3 separate regions of the Homo sapiens genome follow, and all the other regions are linked to region 1. The links come from fine-mapping of genetic effects on gene expression. A gene starts in region 1. Each other region holds a variant in brackets. All regions are shown on one strand. Distances are between the middles of the regions. Region 1 holds the start of PTCD1 (pentatricopeptide repeat domain 1). Region 2 holds the start of LOC124901841 (small nucleolar RNA U13). Region 3 overlaps PILRB (paired immunoglobin like type 2 receptor beta).

The links.
Region 2: its variant is fine-mapped to the expression of PTCD1 in whole blood (INTERVAL, PIP above 0.99).
Region 3: its variant is fine-mapped to the expression of PTCD1 in whole blood (TOPMed, PIP 0.90).

What each region holds. Positions count from the first base shown.
Region 1 is chr7:99,435,187-99,443,360 of GRCh38, reverse strand. It overlaps PTCD1 (pentatricopeptide repeat domain 1), which reads left to right and starts at 4,563. Exons shown (of 8, transcript NM_015545.4): 1 at 4,563-4,669; 2 at 8,093-8,174. The coding sequence starts at 8,119. ATP5MF-PTCD1 (ATP5MF-PTCD1 readthrough) reads left to right here. Exons shown (of 9, transcript NM_001198879.2): 3 at 8,093-8,174. CPSF4 (cleavage and polyadenylation specific factor 4) reads right to left here and starts at 4,418. Exons shown (of 8, transcript NM_006693.4): 1 at 4,176-4,418. The coding sequence starts at 4,278. It also overlaps the pseudogene LOC100131859. RefSeq lists silencers at 4,124-4,423, 7,922-8,069 and enhancers at 4,684-4,973, 6,270-6,795.
Region 2 is chr7:99,412,123-99,420,296 of GRCh38, reverse strand. It overlaps BUD31 (BUD31 spliceosome associated protein), which reads right to left. Exons shown (of 6, transcript NM_003910.4): 4 at 4,037-4,159; 5 at 2,702-2,868; 6 at 681-906. The coding sequence ends at 856. It overlaps ATP5MF-PTCD1 (ATP5MF-PTCD1 readthrough), which reads left to right. Exons shown (of 9, transcript NM_001198879.2): 9 at 148-3,558. The coding sequence ends at 330. PTCD1 (pentatricopeptide repeat domain 1) reads left to right here. Exons shown (of 8, transcript NM_015545.4): 8 at 148-3,558. The coding sequence ends at 330. It overlaps LOC124901707 (a long non-coding RNA gene), which reads right to left. Exons shown (of 2, transcript XR_007060451.1): 2 at 8,002-8,108. It also overlaps LOC124901841. RefSeq lists a silencer at 4,615-4,664. The variant G/T (reference allele first, on the strand shown) is at 3,153.
Region 3 is chr7:100,363,955-100,372,128 of GRCh38, reverse strand. It overlaps PILRB (paired immunoglobin like type 2 receptor beta), which reads right to left. Exons shown (of 4, transcript NM_178238.4): 4 at 4,298-4,780. The coding sequence ends at 4,752. It overlaps STAG3L5P-PVRIG2P-PILRB (STAG3L5P-PVRIG2P-PILRB readthrough), which reads right to left. Exons shown (of 17, transcript NR_036570.1): 17 at 4,298-4,780. It also overlaps a transcript of PILRA not described here. Among named protein-coding and RNA genes, the nearest start is that of PILRA, 5.4 kb to the left of the region's middle. RefSeq lists enhancers at 974-1,725, 5,335-5,414, 6,265-6,314, 6,335-6,384, 6,415-6,574. The variant G/A (reference allele first, on the strand shown) is at 4,845.

The DNA.
Region 1 (8,174 bases):
TGAAGAGGAGGCAAATGAAGATGTACTAGGAGATGAAACAGAAGAAGAAAAAAACCCCTTGTCAAATAGGAAGAACCCCCTGAAAAAAACTGTTGATGTGGCAGCAGAGAAGAAAGTGGTGAAAATTACATCTGAAATACCACAGGCTGAGAGAATGCAGAAGAGGGCCGAACAATTCAGTGTACCTGTGAGCTTGGAGAGTAAGAAAGCTGCTCAGGCAGCTAGGTTTGGGATTTCTTCAGTTCCAACAAAAGTCTGTCATCTGAACACACCTATGGTTAACTTGGATAAGCCGAAGGAAAGAGCTCAAAGATTTGGTTTGAATGTCTCTTCAATTTCCAGAAAGTCTGAAGATGATAAGAAACTGAAAAAGAGGAAGGAGCGATTTGGGATTGTCACAAGTTCAGCTGGAACTGGAACCACAGAGGATACAGAGGCAAAGAAGAGGAAAAGAGCAGAGCGCTTTGGCATTGCCTGATGAAAGGTTCTTGATACTTTCTGTTCTCCAGTGTTTTCCACTTCTCTCATTCTTCTTGGTCACATATATACTAAATGCAGTCTTGCCTTGCAATGAGGGAGCAGGTACCCCAGGTAAAACTGTGAACTGCCGCGGCAGTTTGACTTATTGCTGTTTCAGCTTTAAGGTTGTTGTGTTTTTGTTTTTGATTATATTGCTTGTTTTTTGTTTTTTTTTTTTTTTTTTTTGAGACGGAGTCTCGCTGTTGCCCAGGCTGGAGTGCAGTGGTGTGATCTCGGCTCACTGCAGGCTCTGCCCCACCGGGGTTCACACCATTCTCCTGCCTCAGCCTCCCGAGTAGCTGGGACTACAGGCACCCGCCACCTTGCCCAGCTAATTTTTTGTATTTTTAGTAGAGACGGGGTTTCACCGTGTTAGCCAGGATGGTCTCGATCTCCTGACCTCGTGATCCGCCCGCCTCGGCCTCCCAAAGTGCTGGGATTACAGGTGTGAGCCACAACGCCCGGCCGATTATGTTGCTTGTTAATAAAAAAGAAAAGAAAAGAAAAAAAAAGCACAGCCTTTCATTCCCACAGTCGGAGTGTGCTGGAATTCAGTGGGCTCCAGGGACCAGCTGTTCTGATGAGTCCAGGAATTCACCAGCCCCAGCTGCCAGACTAAACTGACCTTGGCATCAGAAACAGTTTCCTCTACAAGTAACCATTTTAGAATTGCTGAAAAACCAATGACAGCATCTCTGAAGCCCACTTAACATGCCTCCCCTTGCTAAATCACAAAAGATTCCTTGGCTTCTTGGAAGCAAGCAGATTTTGCTAGGACACAGCTGAGGTTATAGAACTTATGGCTGTCACAGGGAGGTCACTCCATTTGCATCTCAAAAAGTCTGAAAGTGGCCAGGTGCGGTGACTCACGTCTGTAATCCTAGCACTTTGGGAGGCTGAGGCGGGTGGATCACTTGACATCAGGAGTTCAAGACCAGCCTGGCCAATATGGTGAAACCCCATCTCTACTAAAAATGCAAAAATTAGTCAGACATGGTGGCACGTGCCTGTAATCCCAGCTACCTGGGAGGCTGAGGCAGGAGAATCACTTGAACCCAGAGGCAGAGGTTGCAGTGAGCCAAGATCGCGTCACTGTGCTCCAGCCTGGGTAACAGAGCAAGACTCTGTCTCAAAAAAAAAGAAAAAAAAAATTCTGAAAGTACTTCTGGTCTCTCTCTTTAGAGGTTAGAGTTGCTTCTGCTCAGAAATACACAGTTCTGGGAACTGAGTCTCATGTGGATAGGATGAGTATGCCTTATGGGCAAAGTGACAGTTCTTCCCAAAACTCAGATGGGGATGAAGAGGAGGGATGGGTGAGGAAGGGCTGTGGCCTCACTAGGCTTTAACTGAACAGGATATGGACAAGCAGCGAGTGTGGAGGGTGCCTACCGACTCTGAAGCCCTGGCTGGAGCAACACCCATGGCTAGGTGTGTCCCGGGCCTCAGGAACAGGTATGTGGGCCCCTCGCCACTGTACCTCCCCTCACAGGCTTGTGGATGTGTCAGATGGCAGAAGGGTGGGAGGAAAAGAGCTGCCCTGCGTGGGTGGTTCCATGGTCTCAAGCTAGTGCCATCAAGACAGGAAAAGGCCGGCTGGGCACAGTGGCTTATGCCCGTAATCCCAGCACTTTGGGAGGCCGAGGCAGGTGGATCATTTAAGGTCAGGAGTTCAAGACCAGCCTGGCCAACATGGTGAAACCTCATCTCTACTAAAAATACAAAAATTAGTTGGGCGTGGTGGTGGGCGCCTATAATCCCAGCTACTCAGGAGGCCAAGGCAGCAGAACTGCTTGAACCTGGGAGGTGGAGGTTGCAGTGAGCCGAGATCGCACCATTGCACTCCAGCCTGGGTGACAAAAGCAAAACTCTGTCTCAAAAAAAAAAAAAAAAAAAAGACAGGAAAAGGCCACATGTGCAGGGATGATCACAAGAGTCGAGGGGTAGGTAAGAGGGGGTGTGTGTGTGTGAATTTGAGCAGCTGCTTTTTAGGGAGTGTACAGTGGTGATGGTGTTTGTGCCTGTGTCAAATAGGGTGGTCTGATGATGTCTCCTTATAAGCACTATCTTGTCTTCTTGAAGACTTAATTAATTTCCAATGAAACTATCTTGTACAGAACTATCACCATGTAAAGTTGTGGGACAGGCAGGAAAAAAAAAAAAAAAAAAATATATATATATATATATATGCCAGGTGCAGTGGCTCATGCCTATAATCCCAGTACTTCCGAAGGCCGAGGTAAAAGGATCACTTGAGCCCAGGAGTTCAAGACCAACCCTGGGAAACATGATGAAATAGTGTCTCTACCAAGAAATACACACAAAAAAATTTGCCAGGCGTGTTGGTGCATGCCTGTGGTCCCAGCTACTTGGGAGACTGAGGTGGGAGGATTGCTGGAGCCTGGGAAGTCGAGGCTGCATTGAGCCATGATTGCGTCACTGCACCCAGCCTGGGCGACAGAGGGGCCCCTGTCTCAAAAGCAAACAAACAACAACAACAAAAACACATAAAGGGACAGACTCAGAGGTCACATGTGCATGAGAAGGTGTGACCGCCTGAGGGGAGTGAGGCTGCTGGGAGCGGTGGGAGACCCCGCTGGTAGTTGTGGGCGACAGCACACAACACTGGAGAGCTTGCCCGCCTCTGCTATGCACTGAGTGATTGTCAGCAAGTCCCTTCCCCCGCTTGGGTCTCAGTTTCCCCATCTGTGGATTGAACTCAGTGACTTCCACAAGCCCCCAAACTTTAAGGTTATAGCATTAGATTTCAAGTATGTCCAGATAGGAAAGAAGACACAAAGAAAACTACTGGTTTCTTTTAAAGTACAAGATATCCCACCGAGTAGGAGGTGGGAAGCCAGGAGCCACCATATGAAGGGGAGCAGTGAAGGGAGTTCAGGCCAAGGGTCCACACCAGCTGCTGGGTGTGATGAATAACTCAGAGTTGGGGTCCAGAAAAAAGTAGGGACGGGCCAAAAACTAGGGATGAGCTCCCAGGAGAGTGAGTCCTAGAAGGGAGTTTGAGAGTCTAGCTGGGGTCTCCTACAGAAAGGTGGTCCTTCCCTCAGCACATCTCCTCCAACCGCCTAGTTTTGATGAAATCAAGAAGAGACGCTCAACGTAGCGGGTGTGATATCCTAGTACTCTCCTGCAGTTGGGAGAGTGTTGAGGGAGAGTTCCAATCCAGGATAACCCACCCTTATTCAAGAATTAAGCGAACAGACAAGGTCTACCCTCCTACAGATTACCTTTGAACAGCCGCAGAGGGCCAAAGATCCGAGGCAGTGAACTCCTGAGTCCGAGTGAGGGTAAAAGGAGTCCCCAGACGGTGGAAATGGGGGCCTGGGAGTCAGGAGTCCTGAAACCAAGGGGAGCGTCCCGGGATCCAGAAGAGGAGGTCTCAGGATGGAGTGGGAAGAGTCTCGGGACCACAGATGAGGGAGTTCGGTAACTAAAGGGGAGGATCCCAGGACCCGGAGGAGGTGGGAGGGACTCTCAAGACCTAGAGGGAGGAGTCCTGCGACCAAAGGGGAGGGGTCCCAGGATCCAGAGGAAGCCGGGGGAGGTCTCAGGACCGAGGCGAGGGAGTCCCGGGATCACAGAGGAGCGGGTCCCGGGTTCGAGTCGCTCTTGCCCTCCCGCCCGGGCCCCGCGCTCACTGTCCATGCCGGGGAAGGGCAGCGGCTGCGCCCCCAGCTGCTGCTCCACCGCGATCTCCAAGTCAAACTTGATGTGGTCCACGCTGGCGATGATTTCCTGCATGGCGGCGGCGGCGGCCCCACCGGCCCGGCTCCCCCTCGGTCTCCTGCAGCCTTCTCGCCTTTACCCGCCGCCGGCCCCGCCGCACACACTCCTCCTTCGCTTCGCCTCGCCGCCGCCGCCGCCGCCGCCCGAGGGATGCCGGGAGCGCCCGGAGCCCGCGCCGGCCCTTGCGCCTGTCCAGGCACTGCCAATCGAGACTCCGCCGTTCCGCTAGTCCCAGCTAGCCGCCAGCCGAACACCGGCCTCGCCAGAAACCTGAAACCAGCCGCGTGAGTCGGCGACGCGGATTGCGCCTGCGCGCTTGGGGAGAGGGGGACCCGAGGAAGAGACTGGTTCGCCGCGGGGACCGGGCAGGGCTCCCCGTCGGAGTGCACTGCGCCGGACACTTCAAGTGAGTTCCTGTGTGATCCTCGCAGGAGCCCCGGGACCCGGGCCAAGACACGCCAGAGGGGAAGGAAGTGCCCGAGCCGGGATTGGAGCCGGGGGCGTCTGAGGAGGGAAACTGAGGCTGCAGAAGTCCGTGTGGAGAGGGGTCGGCGTTGGCCTGAGGGTCCGGGTGGGCCTCTGAGGAGGGGCGGGTCTCTCCGAGGAAGGACGGCCGCAGCGTGTCTCTAATTCAGGGTTTTTTCTCGCTCTGTGGCCCAGGCTGGAGTACAGGGGTACGATCATAGCTCACTGCAGTCAACTTCTCAGACTCAAGCGATCCTCCCACCTCAGCCTCCCGAGTAGCTGGAACTACAGACGCTGCACCACCACACTTGGCTAATTTTTAAAATTTTATTTTTAATTTTTGTAGAGACGGCGGGGTTGGGGGGGCGGGTGGCGGGTCTTGCTATGTTGCCCAGGCTGGTCTCGAACTCCTGGCCCCAAGCCCAAAGCGATCCTCCTGCCTGGGCCTCCCAAAGTGCTGGAATTGCAGGCATGAGCCACTATACAGCCTAATTCAGGGTTTTTTTTAACCAGGGTGGGGTAATGAGCTTGTGTAGGAACAAAATGCACCCCTATTTTTCTCTATGTGAAGTATAGCATTTCCTTTCCTGATTGCTGGAGCAGCCTTAGCAGTGCCTGAAACTGTGAGGGTGAGTGTAAATGATAGTTCCAGATAACAGTTTGTGCAGGGCCAGGCATGGTGGCTCACACCTGTAACCTCAGCACTTTGGGAGTCTGAGGCGAGAGGATCACGTGAGGTCAGGAGTTCGAGACCAGCCTGGACAGGATGGCAAAACCCCGTCCCTACTGAAAATATAAAAATTGGCCTGGAGTAGTGGCGCGTTCCTGTAATCCCAGCTACTTGGGAGGCTGAGGCATGAGCATGGCTTAAACCCGGGAGGCAGAGGTTGCATTGAGCCGAGATTGTACCACCCCACTCCAGCCTGGTGACAGAGTGAGACGCAAAAAAACCCAGTTTGTGCAGCAACTACAAGGTGGTATCTTAAGCTGTCACTTACATTTATTACTGCTTTGAAATTATGATAGAGTCGGCCGGGCGCGGTGGCTCACGGCTGTAATCCCAGCACTTCGGGAGGCCGAGGCGGGCGGATCACAAGGTCAAAAGATCCAGACCATCCTGGCCAACATGGTGAAACCCTGTCTCTACTAAAAATACAAAAATTAGCTGGGCTTGGTGGCATGCGTCTGTAGTCCCAGCTCCAGGGGAGGCTGAGGCAGGAGAATCGCTTGAATCCGGGAGGCGGAAATTGCAGTGAGCCGAGGTCACGCCTGAGGACAGAGTGAGAGACTGTCTCAAAAAAAAAAAAAGAAAAGAAAAGAAATTATGATAGGGTCTTGTTATTTCATGCATTGAAAATAAGCATCTATACTAGTATAGCAGAAATTTGTTTTTAAAGCATTTTGATGCCATTTCAATATCATTGCTTTTTGTTTTGTAATTCTGTGTATTGTAATTAATGCACGTAAGGCAGGGCATGGAGGCTTACGCCTGCAATCCCAACACTTTGGGAGGCCAAGGCTGGAGGATTGCTTGAGGCCAGGAGTTCTAGACCAGCCTGGCAACATAGGGAGACTCCATCTCTACAAAAAAATACAAAAAATTAGACAGGTATGGTGGTGTGCACCAGTAGTGCTAGTTAATTGAGAGGCTGAGGTAGGAGGATCACTTGAGCCCAGGAGTTGGAGGTTGCAGTGATTGTGCATTTGCACTCCACTGTGCCATCGCACTCCAGCCTGGGCAACATGAAGACCCCATTCCACAAAAAAGAAAATTACATAAACACCATGCTTGTAAGAAGGAGTGGCAGGGCTTGCCAGATGCAGAATGATAAAGGCCCCCTGCACTAGTTTCACAAAAGGTGCTGGTCAGGACAATCATCAATGCGTTACATGGACCTGAGTTCAAAGCCAGCCCAGCCCAAGCTGGCCAGTCTCACCCACTGCACTGCTGCAGGACCCCAGCAAGTCTCTCCCCTTGCTGGGCCTAGTTTTTTGTTTGTTGTTGTTGTTGTTGTTTTGAGATGGAGTCTTGCTCTGTCGCTCAGGCTGGAGTGCAATGGCGCGATCTTGGCTCACTGCAACCTCTGCCTCCCACGTTCAAGTGATTCTCCTGCCTCAGCCTCCCAAGTAGCTGGGATTACAGGGGCACGCTGTCACGCCCAGCTAATTTTTATATTTTCGGCAGAGATAGGGTTCACCACGTCAGGCTGGTCTCGAACTCCTGACCTGAGGGGATCCACCCACCTTGGCCTCCCAAAGTGCTGGGATTACAGGCGTGAGCCACCGCTCCTGACCTACTGGGCCTAGTTTTTAATCTGTTCAATCTGCCATCACTTGTAAGACTTTTCCAATCGCAACCTTCTAATATAACCAGACTCTAAAATACTTTAGGCTGGGCATGGTGGCTCATTGCTGTAATCCCAGTGCTTTGGGAGGTCGAGGCGAGAGGATTGCTTGAGTCCAGGAGTTCAAGACCAGCCTGGGCACATAGCAAGACCCTGTCTCTACCAAAAAATAAAATTAGCCAGGCATAGTGGCTCACACCTGTAGTTCCAGCTACTCGGGAGGCTGAAATGGGAGGATCGCTTGAGCACAGGAGGGTGGGGCTGCAGTGAGCTATGTCTGACCTGAACCTAGGCTTTCTAACCTCTGGGCCCATACTTCTTATTTTATTTATTATTATTATTTTTTTTTTTTTCTGAGACAGAGTCTCACTGTCACTCAGGCTGGAGTGCAGTGGCGCGATCTCAGCTCACTGCAAGCTCCGTCTCCTGGGTTCAAGCGATTCTCCTACCTCAGTCTCCTCAGTAGCTGGGATTAGACGTGTAGCACCACACCCAGCTCATGTTTTTTGTATTTTTAGTAGAGATGGGGTGTCGCCAGGCTGGTCTTGAACTGATCTGCCCGCCTCGGCCTCCCAAAGTGCTGGGAGTGCAGGCATGAGCCACCGCCCCTGGCCTGTTCTTTTTCTTTCTTTCTTTTCTTTTTTTTTTCGAGACAGAGTCTCACTCTGTCACCCAGGTTGGAGTATGGTGGCGCAATCTCAGCTCACTGCAAGCTCCATCTCCCAGGTTCAGGTGATTCTCCTGCCTCAGCCTCCTGAGTAGCTGGGATTACAGGCGCACAGCACCAAGCCTGGCTAATTTTTGTATTTTTCATAGAGACGGGGTTTCACCATGTTGTCCAGGCTGGTCTCAAACTCCTGACCTCAAGTGATATGCCAGCCTCGACCTCCCAAAGTGCTGGGATTACAGGCATGAGCCACCGCGCCTGGCCTGGGCCCATACTTGTAACCACTTCTTTCTTTCTGCCTTTTGTTACTAGGAACTGAGTTGACTCTCTTATTTTTCCTGATATATTCCAGGCCCTGGAGGGACAGGAAAGCCAGAAATGGACTTCGTGAGACTCGCTCGACTGTTCGCCAGGGCCCGCCCCATGGGACTGTT
Region 2 (8,174 bases), 23 kb after region 1:
GTTCACAGCTTTTCTGCCCTGTCCTCTGCAGCCACCTGGAAGGGAAAATGGCAGCCACCAGCTTCCCTGAGGCCTGAGCCAGCTGCCGAGGTTTGGGATTAGCTGTAGGTAACAGGAGTGATTCTAGCCTCACTTTTCTAATTCTAGTACCAAGGGAAGAACACCTACCTGGAGAAGATTGACGGCTTCCGAGCCTATTACAAGCAGTGGCTGACAGTGATGCCCGCAGAGGAAACCCCGCACCCCTGGCAGAAGTTCCGGACCAAGCCCCAGGGGGACCAGGACACCGGCAAGGAGGCTGATGACGGATGTGCCCTTGGGGGCAGGTGATGGGAGCACAGCTGGAACAATGTGCTCGGCCCCCAGTGCTCTGTGGGAGCCCCAGGACAAGTGAGCTGGTGTCACCTCCTGCCTGGGGGAAGAGCCAGGCCCTGAGGAACAGCCGCAGCGTGTCACAGGTGTTGGTGAGGACACACACTAGGCCCAAGGTGCCTGTGCTCCCAGCAGGTCCAAGTGCAGCTCCAGCCACCTTTGCGTGTCACCTTCACGGGACTTCCAGCTCCAGCTACCTTTGTGTGTCACCTCACACACCACAAGGGGGCTGGGGCATCTGGTCCCTGGGGCCTGGGCCGCCCCGCCGGGTTCCATAGGCCGATGCTCTGAAAGAAGAGACGTGGGGCTCGAGAGATTTAAAGATTTTATTTTTACAAATCACAGCTGATAGACAGCGAAGCCTTCCCCATAGAGACCGTGCTCCAACTCGGGCCTGGGGCACTGCTCGCTGCTCCCAGGAAGGGGGTGGCGTGACAGGCAGGAACCTGCGAAGTCCAGAGTCCAGGGTGGAGCGCGCCAGCCTCAGCCAGAGCAGCCACGACAGCCACAGTGTGTGCACTCGATGATGCGGCCCTGCAACGGAGGAGGACAGTGAGACGATGCCACTGCGCCACGCTCGCCCCTGCACACTCACATATGTGGCAACCCTCCCACGAAGGACCTGCCACCATGCCATATAGGGACACACCTCAGAAACCCTTCCTTGACAGCTCTGGACAGGGAAAATTTGGCTCCCTCATGAAGGTAGAACCAGCTGCTGTTGACACCGAGGTTACATCTGTATGTCTATTTATAATATGTTCTGCAAATCCAACACACGTTTGCCAATCAAGAAAAAGAAATCGGTGTGAATGAGTCTCGTTATTCTGCTAAGTGAGCATGACAGACCCTGCGATGAGCAGACGTGGCTCTGCTACTGTTTGGGGACTTCAGGGGGGCCTCTGGGCTGGTACACTCTGGTGGGGGAAGAGGGCAGGAGACTATGCACTTGAGTCACACCCTTCTGGCCCAGAGCCCCCCAGAAAGAAGGGTCTTGTCCCCCAGGCCTGGTGCGGCCCAACACTTGGCCAGCCAGAAAGCCCTAGAACAGTGGCTTGTGTTTATTTTACTTTTTCAAGTTCTTTTTTTGGAAGAACAAGACCATAGTTTAAGTAAACAGGATCCTCTGGTGAAACCCAGGTAAGTCTACAGCGGGCTGTTTTGGCCACAGGGCTGAAGCAGCACCCCAGCCCACCAGCCCCTGACCTGGACTCCTTGTGGAATCTGGGCACTCAGAGGAAGGGGGCTTCTGCCACTCTGCCACCTGTCCCTGCCTCCATCAGAAAACCAACACCCCAGTCTTCCGTCGGGGAGGCGGCCCTTGCTCGCCCCCACTGCTCAGTACCCAAGTCCTCAGCATCCAGCCACAGCTCTCCATTGTCAGTCTCACTGCAGCATAAAGGGGACTCATGTGAAGAGGCCCCTGTGTGGAGCTGGGGAAAAGAAGGCCAGGCTGGCAGATGGGCGGTGGGGCCAACAACTGTGCTGAGGGGCTGCACTGAGCGGCCACTGCTGTGACTCTGCCTCGGGCCACAGCTGCCTTTCAGAGGGGCTTGGAACCGGATGGAGCTCAGCTCCTGTCCCTCAGCACCACTCCTGAGGCGCCTGGCCTAGGAGTGGTACTTGGAACAGAAAGTTCTGAAAGAAGAAACACAGTGGGCTGGGCGCAGTAGCTCATGCCTGTAATCCCGGCACTTTGGGAGGCTGAGGCGGGTGGATCACCTGAGGTCGGGAGTTCGAGACCAGCCTGAGCAACATTGAGAAACCCCGTCTCTACTAAAAATACAAAATTAGCCAGGCGTGGTGGTGCATGCCTGTAGTCCCAGCTACTCAGGAGGATGAGGCAGGAGAACCGCTTGAACCCGGGAGGTGGAGGTTGCAGTGAGCCAAGATGGCATCACTGCACTCCAGCCTGGGCGACAAAGCAAGACTCCGTCTTGGGGGGGCGGGAAAGATAGTGATGGTAATGTTAAAGTATCACTGTGAGGACTGAAAGGGACAGGAACTCACTGGTTGTCCTTCCCTGATGTCACCCTGCCACCACCTTGGGATTAGGGCTCCCCACCACCATTTCCTAAGTGAGGAAAGGGGTTCAGTAATTTGCCCAAAAGTGGAGTTGAGATTGACCCCAGACCTAACAAACACACAGCCACACGCTGCCTCACATGGATTCCTGAATACAGGGACCCACTCCCACGAGGGAGAGCCAGCAGGACATCCAGGGACAAAACGACATTCCAGCCCAACCAAATAACATAAGATCCCTTGCAGTCGACTAAGGCAGAATTTTGAGCTGAAAACAACACCAAGCTTGAGTGTCAGACATTACCACTTCCAGCTTGCTTTTGGGCACGCGGCAGATGCAGTTCGTCCCGAAGTTGGTGTCCCGTGTCTGAATGCACCGCAGGCAGCACAAGTTCTCATATCCTTGCTTTTTCCATTTTGCAATCAGGTTTTTGTCTGCATAGCCTTCTTTAATACAATATTCATAGAGTTCTGTCAAAAAGATGGGGAAAGAGCATCAGGCCATGGTCTAAAAACCTTCCCCACCCTTGATCAAAAAAAGCATTCAGGCCGGGTGCAGTGGCTCACACCTGTAATCCCAGCACTTTGGGAGGCCGAGGCAGGCGGATCACCTGAGGTCAGGAGTTCAGGACCAGCCCGGCCAACATGGTAAAACCCCGTCTCTACTAAAAATACAAAAATTACTCGGGCGTGGTAGCAGCTGTAATCCCAGCTACTTAGGAGGCTGAGGCAGGAGAATCACTTGAACCCAGGAG[G/T]CGGAGGTTGTAGTGACCTGAGGTCGTGCCACTGGACTCCAGCCTGGGTGACAGCGAAACTCCATCTCAAAAAAAAAAAGGCATTCAGTATTGCAACGGGACAGTCCTTGGAGGAGGAACAAAAAAAAAAAGTACTTAGGCCAGGCAAGGTGCCTCACACCTGTAATCCCAGCACTTTTGGAAGCCAACGCCAGAGGATCATTTGAGTTAAGAAACCAGCCTGGGCCAAGGGCCCATCTCCACAAAAAATTTAAAAATTAGCTGGGTGTGGTGGTGCACACCTGTAGTCACAGCTACTCAGGAGGTTGAGGTGAGAGGATCCCTTGAGCCCAGAAGGTTGAGGCTGCAGTGAGCCATCATTGCACCACTGCACTCCAGCCTGTGGAACAGAGCAAGACCCTGTTTCAAAAAAAAAAAAAAAAAAAAAGCCAAGAGCGGTGGACCACGCCTATAATTCCAGCACTTTGGGAGACCGAGTCGGGTGAATCACCTGAGGTCAGGAGTTCAAGATCAGCCTGACCAATATGGTGAAACCCCATCTTTACTAAAAATACAAAAATTGGCCAGGTGTGGTGGCAGGTGCCTGTAATCCCAGCTACTTGGGAGCTGAGACAGGAGAATCGCTTGAACCCAGGAAGTGGAGCTTGCAGTGAGCCAAGATTGCGCCACTGCACTCCAGCCTGGGTGACAGAGTGAGACTCCATCTCAAAACAAACAAACAAAAAACAAACACACACACAAAACTCAGCCAACGTTGGCTCCCCCTAATTTTCGTGGTAAGAAAAACCATGACTTGCACAGGTTGCGAGAATAAGGATTGTGGTTAGTTCAGTAACTCCAAAAGTGACGCGAGCTTCAAAGTCCAAGAGAGACTGACTAATTACCTCTGCTGATGGCTTTCCGCTTGTAAAAGAGGTCGAAGATGTAGCGGGTTTTCTGGTGGTGGATCCTGAAGATGGGCCACAGAGATTCCACTTTCCTCTTTCCCTCATGCGGTTCTGTTTCAGCTGGGGAGAAACAAAGAGTGTGTTTGGGGGAATAGGGTCGGTCTGCGCAGGATTTTCTTTTTGTAAGTAACTACTGATAATGAATAAATACCACTTTATACCCACTAGGATGGCTGTGGGTGGCAAGCCACCCAGGTGCCGAGGCAAGAAACCGAGGGCACGAGCTGTTCTAGTATAATAAAATAAATAAAATAAGAATAGTTATACTAGATATAGATCTTAGATATGATTATATATGAATATCATTAATCCTTAGTTTGTAGCAATTACTCTTTATTCCAATATTATAATAATCCTCACTCGACAATCATAACCTAGGAAACACCAGGCTATACAGAGATGGGAGCTGAGGGGACATAGTGAGAACTGACCAGAAAACGAGTGCAAGCCTTCTGTTATGCCCGGACAGGGCCACCAGAGGGCTCCTTGGTCTAGCGGTAACGCCAGCATCTGGGAAGATGCCCGTTGCCAAGCGGACCTTGGTCTAGCAGTAGCGTTAGTGTCAAGGAAAAACACCCGCTACTTAGCAGACCGGGAAAGGGAATCTCCCTTTCCCCGGGGGAGTTTAGAGAAGACTCTACTCCTCCACCTCTTGTGGAGGGCCTGACATCAGTCAGGCCCGCCCGCAGTTATCCAGAGGCCTAACTATCTCCCTGTGATGCTGTGCTTTGGTGGTCACGCTCCTAGTCCGCCTTCATGTTCCATCCTGTACACCTGGCTCTGCCTTTTAGATAACAATAGCAAATTAGTGAAAGTACTAAAAGTCTCTGATAAGCAGAAATAATGGCATAAGCTGTCTCTCTCTCTCTGCCTTGGTGCCAGGCAGGCAAGGGCCCGCTTTCCAGTGGACACGTGACCCATGTGGCCTTACCTATCATTGGAGATGGTTCACACTGCTTATCCTGCCCCTTTGTCTTGTATCCAATAAATATCAGTGCAGCCTGGCATTTGGGGCCACTACCGGTCTCCGCGTCTTGGTGGGATTCCCAGGCTCAGCTGTCTTTTATCTCTTTGTCTTGTGTCTTTATTTCTACGCTCTCTCGTCTCCACACACGGGGAGAAACCCACCGACCCTGTGGGGCTGGACCCTACAGATGACTATAATCAAAATTATGGCACAATAACAAGTGTTGGGAAGGATGTGGAGAAATTGGAACTCTCCTACGTTCCTGGTGGGAATGTAAAATGGTGGAGCCACTGCAGAAGAGTTAGGTGGCTCCTCAAGAAGTTAAACAGGGCTGGCCGGAATCGGTGGCTCACACCTGTAATCCCAGCACTTTGGGAGGCTGAGGTGGGCAGGTCACTTGAGGTCAGGAGTCTGAGACCAGCTTGGTCAACATGGTGAAACCCCATCTCTACTAAAAATACAAAAGAATTAGCAGGGCATGGTGGCGCATGCCTGTAATCCCACCTACTTGGGAGGCTGAGGTGGGAGAATCGTTTGAACCCAGAGGCGGAGGATGCAGTGAGCTGAGATCACACCACTGCACTCCAGCCTAGGCAACAAAGCAAGACTCCCGTCTCAAAAAAAGAAAAAAAAGGGAATGAAGTAAGTACTGATATATTCTACAACACAGATGAACCTTGAAACATCAAACTAACTGTGGCAATGGTCGTACAACTTTGTGAATATACTAAAAACCCCTTAATTGGATAATTTAACAGGTTCACTTTTACAGTATATGATTAATATCTCAATAAAGCTGTTATTTAAAAACAGAATAAGCCGCCGGGCATTTTGGGAGGCCAAGGTGGGCGGACCACGAGGTCAGGAGATCGAGATCAGCCTGACCAACGTGGTGAAACCCCATCACTACTAAAAATTAAAAAATTAGCCGGGCGTGGTAGTGCACGCTTGTAATCCCAGCTTCTCAAGAGGCTGAGGCAGGAGAATTGCCTGAACTCGGGAGGTACAGGTTGCAGTGAGCCAAGATCGCACCACTGCACTCCAGCGTGGGCAACAGTGTGAGATTCCGTCTCAAAAAAAAAAATAAAAAAATAAAAAATAAGCTAAGTAATTTAAACATAATTGTTTTAAATTAAAAATGTCTATTTTTGGATCCTTTTGTAATTCATGAGTGTGCTTGGGTGTTCACATCCATGTGTGAGACATGCCACTCTCAAACCTTGTCACAACGTTGGCACATTACCCATGTGACAAGAAAAAAAGTCTTTTTAATTACAGAATTAGAAAACATAGATTTTTAAAGACATTTAATGGTAACTTCTGTTAAAAGGTTGGTCCCGGCTGGGCACAGTGGCTCACGCCTGTAATCCCAGCACTTTTGGAGGCCGAGGTGGGTGGATCACTTGAGGTCAGGAGTTCGAGAACACCCTGGCCAACAGGGCAAAACACTGTCTCTACTGAAAATACAAAAATTATCTGGGCATGGTGGCACATGCCTGTAATCCCAGTTACTCGGGAGGCTGAGGCACGAGAAGTGCTTGAACCTGGGAAGCAGAGGTTGCAGTTAGCTGACATTGTGCCACTGCACTCCAGCCTGGATGACAGATGACCCTGTCTCAAAAAAAAACAAAACAAAACAAACAAAAAAAAGCCAAAAAACCAACCTTGGTCCCTATGCTTTCAGATCTATTTCTACAGCGTAATAATTAATCAAGATAATTCTAGGCCCACAGATGGGCATCCTAATCATCTTGAAGGCACTTCTAATTTCATCTCCCAGCCAAAGTCCTTTAGGGCTGAGGAAAAGCTAAATAAACTAGACCAGTCTACAGGTTCTGAGGGAAGTAGCCACAGCAGAAGCTGCTCCTTCAACACACGCAGGATCAGGTGGCACTCATACTTGCCGCAAGGCAGTTCTCTCTCTCTCAGCAGTCACAAGTTCATCTTTGTCTATGACCTCCTCAGTTTTTAGGGAAGAACAGAAGGGCGAAGAGTGGTCAAGAAGACTATCCCTCCCTGTCTCCAGCTTTTAAGCCATTCTATTACCTAGGAATTACAATTCAGCTCAACAAACAGAATGCTGTGATCCAAGCAGAAAAGCAGGTAGTAAAGATTCAGCAGGTACACATGTTAAGACGTGACTTGCTCCTCCTTGGCCTCTGCCATGATGGTGAGGCCTCTCCAACCACATGGAACGGTAAGTCCATTAGATCTCGTTCTTTCGTAAATTGCCCAGTCTCAGGTATGTCTATCAGTAGCGTGAAAATGGACTAACACACCCCCATCTCTACAAAAAATTAGCCAAGCGTTGGTCGGGCGCGGTGGCTCATGCTTGTAATCCTAGCACTTTGGGAGCCTGAGGCGGGTGGATCACAAGGTCAGGCGATCGAGACCATCCTGGCTAACATGGTGAAACCCCGTCTCTACTAAAAATACAAAAAAAAAAAAAAAATTAGCTGGGCATGGTGGCGGGCGCCTGTAGTCCCAGCTACTCCAGAGGCTGAGGCAGGAGAATGGTGTGGACCTGGGAGGCGGAGCTTGCAGTGAGCGGAGATCGCGCCACTGCACTCCAGCCTGGGTGACAGAGCGAGACTCCGTCTCAAAAAAAAAAAAAAGAAAAAAAAGAAAAGAAAACTTAGCCAAGCGTGGCAGTGGATGCCTGTAGTCCCAGCTGCCTGGGAGACTGAGGTGGGAGGAACACCTGAGCCTGGGAGGTGGAGGCTTCAGTGAGCTGTGATTGAACCACTGCACTCCAGCCTGGGCAACAAAGTGAGACCTTGTCTCAAAACAAAAACAAAAAGAAAACAGAACAAAGAATACTTCTGTCTGGAGGTAAAGAATATCTAAACACAAAGTAGGGTTCCTCCTTCCCTCAAAAGTCACCCTTTAGAAGATGAAGTTAATTTACTTTCAAGGACTTGCAAAATCTCTTCTATTCCAGCATGCTCCCATTTCCTTTATTTTGATAAAGAGCTGTTTCGGGAAGACATCTCTCAGCCCAAAATGACCGTGATTACTGCAATAGGCCCATCCAAATCTAAACTGCAAAACAAGTACTGAGTATTTAATAGAAGTTATCTGGTACGAACAGTTTTTTTAAAAAGGGGC
Region 3 (8,174 bases), 930 kb before region 1:
CTGGAAAGATGGGCTGCAGAGAGGACAAGGGACCCCCTGGCTGTCTGGGCAGGGCCTCGAGAGGGTGGCCCGCCCCACCTGAGGACCTGGCTGAAAGGTCACCTGCTTACCAGGCTGTCCAATGTGGGGGCCACATAGAACTTATAGCCAACAGCCTCTGGGTAGCTCTGGAGGGCACATGCTGCCCAATGCTGCCACGTGCAGTCTCCTTAGATGCAACATGCATGTTTATGTCACTTTCAGGCCCTGGATCCAGCTGAACCCCCATGGGAGATTCCTTCTGTGTCAGGATTTCTGCTCTGGGATGGTGTGAGGTCTCCTGGATTTGTTCATCCTCCCTCCCCCAACAGCAGTGACAGAACCTGGGACTGAGCCTGGGGCTGTGGCTCTCTCACAGACAGGGCTTCTGAGAGGAGGAGGAGGGCCTGGAGGAGGGCATGATTCCAATGTGGGCAGAGCCTAAATGCAGCCCCTTAGTGCAGGTGCTCATGGGAGAGGCGTGGGAAGTCGTGTGTGGGGAGCAGGGGCAGGGAGGGGGTAAGTACCCTGCACCGCATTATGAGAACCACTGCTTGGATGTCCCCACATTCCCCCAACAAGTATCCTACTGTCCTCACTGGCCACATCCGTCCCTGCCCCCAGCCCCTCACCTCTCCTTGGCACCCACCGTTCCTGCTTTCCTCTGATCCCAATCGACATCCCATAGGCTTTGTGGAGTTCACAAGCCAACTGTAATATTCTCACAGTAATTCAAAGGACCTAGAATAGCCAAAAGGCCTTTACAAATGAAGAATGAAGGTGGAAGATTTATAATACCTGACTTCAAGACTTGCTGTAAAGCTTCTGTAATCAGGCTGTACTGTCCTCAAGGTACTAGAGTGTCCACAGACTGGAGTGTAGGGACGCGATCACCATCACTCCTGGGCTGAAGCAATTTGCTGACCTCAGCCTCCCAAGTAGTGAAGACCACAGGCACACACCACCACACACGGCTAATTTTTTTTTTTTTTTGAGAGATGGGGTCTCACTATGTTGTCTAGGCTGGTCTCAAGTTCCTGGGCTTAAGCAATCCTCCTGCCTCGGCCTCCCTCAGTGCTGGGATGACAGGTGTGAGCCACCTCACCAAGCCCCACTGGATTGCTGATATTCTGGCATCTTGGACCTCCAAGAGCAGAGAGAGGGACTGCCCCTGCCAGAGCCAGCCAGTTGTTAGAGCTAGCAAATGACCCCTCTGAGAGTGTCCCTTTTTTTTTCTGAAACAGTCTCACTCTGCTGCCAGGCTGGAGTGCAGTGGCACGGTCTCGGCTCACTGCAACCTCCACCCCTGGGTTCAAGCGATTCTCCTGCCTCAGCCTCCCAAGTTGCTGGGATTACAAGTGCGTGCCACCATGCCCAACTAATTTTTGTATTTTTAATAGAGACGGGGTTTCACCACGTTGGCCAAGATGGTCTCCATCTCCTGACCTTGTGATCTGCCCACCTCGGCCTCCCAAAGTGCTGGGATTACAGGCTTGAGCCACGGCTCCTGGCTGAGTGTGCCTTTCATATGCAAACCAGCTAATCCAGGGCCCCAACACTGAACCAGCTCTTCTAGCTGCCTCTCACCCTTCAGAAGGCAGTATTTCTCTGCCTTCATCATCCTGGGCCAGACACCAAATAACAAATGACAGCCTCTAATCCCCAGAGCCTGCTAACGTTATTCTAACTAGCCAATCCTAAACCTGCATACCCTTCCTTGCCTTTTCCAGGGAAAGCATAACAAAGGGTCTCACCCCTGTGTTCCCTTGGCTTCCTCTACTCCCTGAGGGACCCTGGTGCTTTCCCAAGTGGCCCTGCATGGCTGTGTCTCTCGTTTCTGGGGATCTGTGAGGATACACTGCTTCCCTTATGACCCTCATTTCCATGGCCATACCTGATGGAAAGAAATGGCAGGTGCATTTTGTTTTATTATTATTATTATTTTGAGACGGAGTCTCACTCTGTCGCCCAGGCTGCAGTGCAGTGGCACCATCTCGGCTCACTGCAACCTCTGCCTCCCAGGTTCAAGCGATTCTCCTGCCTCAGCCTCCCGAGTAACTGGGACTACAGGTGCCCACCACTATGCTCACCTAATTTTTGTAGTTTTAGCAGAGATGGGGTTTCACCATGTTGGCCAGGCTGGTCTTGAACTCCTTACCTCAGGTGATCCACCTGCCTAGGCCTCCCAAAGTTGCTGAGATTACAGGCATGAACCACCGCGCCCTGCCAGCAGGTGCATTTGATTTATTTTTATTTTTTGAGACGGAGTCTCGCTCTGTCACCCAGGCTGGAGTGCAATGGTACAATCTCGGCTCACTGCAACTTCCACTTCCTGAGTTCAAGTGATTCTCCTGCCTCAGCCTCCTGAGTAGCTGGGATTACAGGCACGTGCCACCATGCCCGCCCGGCTACTTTTTGTATTTTTAGTAGAGATGGAGCTTTGCTATGTTGTTCAGGCTGGTCTCGACCTCCTGACCTTGTGATCTGCCTGCCTCAGCCTCCCAAAGTGCTGGGATTACAGGTGTGAGACACTGTGCCTGGCCCAGCAGGCGCATTTTAAAAGAGCTTTTAACTCTCTGGACAATCCCAGGAGGTAGGCAGCATCTCTGTATGGTCCTCAATTTATACAGAAAGAAACGGAGGCCCTGAGGGTGGTTCTGAGCCTAGCCTGAGGTCACATGGCCCAGGAACGTCCACTGTGGCATCAGGTCTGAGCTTGGGGCCTGTGCGGCCAACCACTTCCCCATTCAGTGACATCAGCCAGCAGTCCTCTGGGCCTCTGTGACAACCATGCTTCCCTTTTCTGTGTTGTCTTCCTTCTGCACAGGGAGGTGCTTGAGGGCTGGGGCACTGGCTGGTGTAGCTTTGGGTCCTTGTCACCCAGTGCAGTGTGCCTGTCACCCAGGGCAGTTAGTGCTGACCAAATGCGTATGGAGAGGGTGGAGGCATCTTCAAGGGGTGGGGATCAGGTGACGATCATTTTCAGTAGAGATGGGGTTTCACCGTATTGGCCAGGTTTTTTGTTTTGTCTTTTTTTTTTGAGACAGGCTCTCTCTCTGTCACCCAGGCTGGAGTACAGTGGTGCAATCACAACTCACTGCAGCCTCAGTTGCCACCTGAGGGCTCAATTGATTCTCCCACCTCAGCCTCAAAATGTGCTGGGATTACAGTCATGAGCCACTGTGCCTGGCCCAATCATGCCTTTATAATGAAGCCCATAAAAACCCAAAAGGGATGCAGAGGGCTTCTGGATAACTGAACTCATGGAGCTTCCTAGAGGGTGCAGTGCCTAGAGAAGACACGGAAGCTTTGCACCCCTTCCCCCAGGCCTCCCTCTGTGTATCTCTTATATCTGGCTGTTCATAACTATCCTTTGTAATATCCTATATCTTTATTTTGAGACGGGGTCTCGCTATGTTGCCCAGGTTGGTCTCAAACTCCTGTGCTCAAGTGAACCTCCCCCCTCAACCTCCTGAAGCACAGAGATTACAGGCATGAGCCATGGCGCCAGGCCCTATAATATCCTTTATAAGGGGACACATGTAAGTAAAGGGCTTCCCTGAGTTCTAGGTACCATTCTAGAAAATTAATTGAACCCAAGGAGGGGATCATGGGAACCTCAATTTTTATAGCCCTGTGTCAGAAGCACAGGCACCACGTGAGCTTGCGACTGGCATCTGATGCTGGGGCAGCCTTGTGGAACTGAGCCCTCAACCCGTGCGATCACAGGAAGCAGCCAATTTGCTGTAGTAGCCGTGGCCAACACACTGTCTCTGACAGTGTTCTTGCCCCTGCCCACTCCTTCTTAACGATTCCCTCTCAGCCAGGCATGGTGGCTCACGCCTGTAATTGCAGCTATTTGGGAGACTGAGGCTGGAGGATTGCTTGAGCCCAGGAGTTTGAGACCAGCCTGGACAACTTGGTGAAACTCCAGTACCACTAAAAAATACAAACATTAGCTGAGTGTGGGGGTGCACGCCTGTAATCCCAACTACTTGGGAGGCTGAGGCATGAGAATGGCTTGAACCCAGGAGGCAGAGGTTGCAGTGAGCAGAGATTGCGCCACTGCACTCCAGCCTGGGTGATGAGAGTGAGGCTCTGTCTCAAAAAAAAAAAAAAAAAAAAAAAAAGATTTCCCTTCTTAAACTTGCTTCCAACTGCTTTAAATCTGTGAGTGCCATCTGTTTCTAGTGGGGAGGCTCCCTGCATCATGACTGGACTCAGGTACTGCAGAGCAGGAAGGGGCACTTGGCAGCCATGTGGGAGATGCACAGGGAAGTGTCAGCAGCATTTCACGCTATTTATTCCCCAAAACCTTCTGCCATAGAAGACAGCCACCATACAGATTGGAAAATGTGGACGAGGAGAAAAGGGGTGTATGGTAAGCAAAATAAATTGTATTTTTCCATCCTTGGGGAGGATAAAGGAACTCTTTGCACTGCTATAATAAACAGCCCCCAAATGCCAGTGGTTTAATTCAGTGGAGTTCAGACCTCATTCCTATATCATTGCAGTGTGGATGCTCCTGGATGAAGGCTCTTGTAGGTAACTCTCCTCCAGTCGGTGATTCAGGGACCCAGCCTCCTTCTGCCTTGCGGCTTTGCCTTTTAAAGGTCCTCAGGGTGCTCTCCATGTATCTTGCCAATGGGGAACGAGTGTGGAGGACTCACAAGCGGGTCTCACATCACGTCCTCCGGGGCTAATACACATCCCTTCTCCCCACACTCTGTTGGTCAGAAGTCACTGCTTGGCGCCCTGCTACCTGCAGGAGGGGAAGTGTTTTTAGATGCAGGGCCAGGATTATTAGTGAGGCAGGCGAGGCAGTT[G/A]CTTCAGAGATCAGATTTAAGTGGGAGGTGGCAAAAACTCAGGAGAATTTGTGGCAGGCTGGGCTTGTGGGGTTCTTAGCAGCACAGTCCCTGATTTCCAAACCCGTCCCCTGCCCGCACCTGTACTCCCCACTCCCTTGGGGAGGCCCAGCACTCAGCTGGCTGGGGTTGTGGCTTTAGTCCGCTGCTGACGTGTAGGGGGACCAACAGTGAGTCAGGGTGGCATCCAGGTGATAGCAGTCTCCATCCCACCTTCTCTGCTGCGCCCTAGGCTGAGGCCCTCCTTAGAGGGACCAGAGCAGCAGATCAGCTCTGCCCAAACCCATCAGGAAGGGCCTGGGACTCAGCTGGCACCCTGAGGCTCCCCCCCGACCTGTTCTCCCTGTTGTCCACCACGTCATCTCCTGAAACCGCCCCCGCAAAACCTTGCTACCCTCTGTTGGCTTCCTTCGCTCTTGAGCTCTCTGCTCAGCCCCAACCTGGCTCCCTCTATCGCTGAGCCCTCGCCCACCCATCTCTTCCTTCCCTCCCCTTCCCTTGACATAGGCACCCCCACCTCTCCCTCCAGGTCCTCAGGGAGACCGCGCCTGTGGTTTCCTTCTGGGTGGCGGCTGTGTCTGCCCTCCAGCCTTGGGAGCCTCATGCTTGGGACTCATGTTTGTGGCTGTTCAAGTTCTGTTGCCACCTCTAGGCCTCCCCTCCCCTCTGGCTGGTCTCACCCTGAATCCTCTGCTGCCTCTCCCACTGTGCCCTGCCCCTCTTGTCCCCCTGGCATCCTTGCAGTGTTTCCCAAGCACTGGGCTCCTGGTCCACAGACATCCCCTCCACCATCCAGCCCCCTCCTGGGAGGGCTCCACGTCCACAGAGACACCCTCTGAACCCAGGCCTCACGGCACCCCTCAACTCCAGGGACCTCCCCTTCCACTTCTACAGGTTTTTTGTTTTTTAATGTTGGGACTGGGAACTCTGAAATATTAACTGCTAGTATCATTTTCATATTGCAACTTTCACTCCTTCCAGCCTAACACCTAAGGTGGGTGCGGTGGCTCACGCGGTGATAATCCCAGGATTGGGAGGCCAAGGTGGGCAGATCACCTGAGGTCAGGAGTTCGAGATCAGCCTGAACAATATGGTGAAAACCTGTCTCTACTAAAATTACAAAAATTAGCCGGGCGTGGTGGCATGTGCCTGTACTCCCAGCTACTCAGGAGGCTGATGCAGAAGAATTGCTTGACCCTGGGAGGTGGAGGTTGTAGTGAGCCAAGATCGCACCACTGCACTCCAGCCTGGGTGACAAAGCGAGACTCTGTCTAAAAAAAAAAAAAAAAAAAAAAACCACCTAGAATTTACCATCCTAACCATTGCTTAGTGTACAGTTTGGCAGTGTTAAGTGTATTCACATGGTTGTGAGACAGATCTCCAGAACATTTTCATCTTGCGAAACTGAAACCCAAAAGTTCTTTTTTTGAGACAGAGTCTTGCTGTGTCACCCAGGCTGCTATACAGTGACGTGATCTCAGCTCACTGCAACCTCCATCTCCTGGGTTCCAGTGATTCTCCTGCCTTAGGTTCCCGAGCAGATGGGATTACAGGTGCCCCCGCCACACCAGCTTATTTTTTGTATTTTTAGTAGAGACAGGGTTTCGCCATGTTGGCCAGGCTGGGCTCGAACTCCAGGCCTCAAGTGATCCACCTACCTCAGCCTTCCAAGGCATGTTCCTCACAGGCGTGAGCCACCACACTGGGCCAGTAAAACTGAAATTCTATGTTCTTTAAATATTAACTCTCCATTCTCATCTCCTCTGTGCCCCTGACAACCACCTTTCTGCTTCCTGTTTCTAGGAATCTGGCTACTCTAGATACCATGTAAGTGGAATCAGACAGTATTTATCTTTTTGTGACTAGCTTATTTCACTTAGCATAATGTCCTCAAGGCTCATTTATACTACAGCATGTGTAAGAATTTCCTTCCCTTTAAAGGTTGAGGCCAAGCATAGTGGCTCACGCCTATAATCCTAGCACTTTGGAAGGCCGAGGTGGGTGGATCCCCTGAGGTCAGGAGTTCGAGACCAGCCTGGCCAACATGGTGAAACCCCGTCTCTACTAAAAATGCAAGAAGTAGCTGGGTGTGGTGGCACACACCTGTGATCCCAGCTACTCGGGAGGCTGAGCCAAGAGAATCCCTTGAACCCAGGAGGCGGAGGTTGCAGTGAACTGAGATTGCACTGCTGCACTCCAGCCTGGGTGACAAAGCAGGACTTTGTCTCAAAATAAATAACTAAATAAAAAAGATTCAATAATATTATTTTTTTCAGAACTTTTTTTTTTTAATAGACAGGATCTTATACTGTCACCCAGGATGGAGTGCAGTGGCACAATCATAGTTCACTACACCCTCAACCTCCTGGGCTCAGGTCATTCTCCTAACCTCAGCTTCCCGAGTAGCTTGGACTACAGACACCGTATTTTGTTTGATGGACATTTCAGTTGATTCTACGTTTGGGGTATTTTGAGTAATGCTACTACAAACATCGGTGTGCAAACACCTCTTCCTGACCCTGCTTTCAATTGGTTGGATAGATGCCCAGAAGTGAGATTGTTGGATCATATGGTAGTTCTACTTTTAATATTGTGGAGGCTAAGGCAACTCCATCTTGGAAGCTAATCTGCCATGGCAGCTTCTGATTAACCCCAGTTCTGGGAAGGCCTCTAAGATTTCCAGTTGATCTATCGTTCTTGTGTAAGAGCAGGTACGTATCATAAATCCTGCCCTGGAGTCAAACAACCTTGATGTGATCATACTTCACCTGTAGAATACAAACCATCCTTCCCCTGTGGAATAAAAACCATGGGTCTGGGGATGATGGTGCAAGGACCCACCATCTTGTCTCATCACCCTATGTTTTCTCCTGTATTTTCTTCTAGACACTGGACAGTTTTGGGTCTTACATTGAAGTCTTTAATCCATTTTGAGTTAATTTTTTGGCAGAGATGCACCTTTATGTTTTGCATGTGAGTACCCAGCTTTCTCAACACCATTTGTTGAAGAAACTATTCTTCGTCGAGTGGTCATCTTGGCACCCTTGTTGAGGATCATTTGACTATCTATGTGAGGGTTTATTTGTGGGCTCTGTATTCTATTCCACTGCTCTATTTATGTCTTTTTTTTTTTTTTTGAGATGGAGTTTCACTCTTGTTGCCCAGGCTGGAATGCAATGGCGTGATCTTGGCTGACTGCAACCTCTGCCTCCCGGGTTCAAGTGATTCTCCTGCCTCAGCCTCCCGATTAGCTGGGATTACAGACATGCGCCACCACGCCTGGCTAATTTT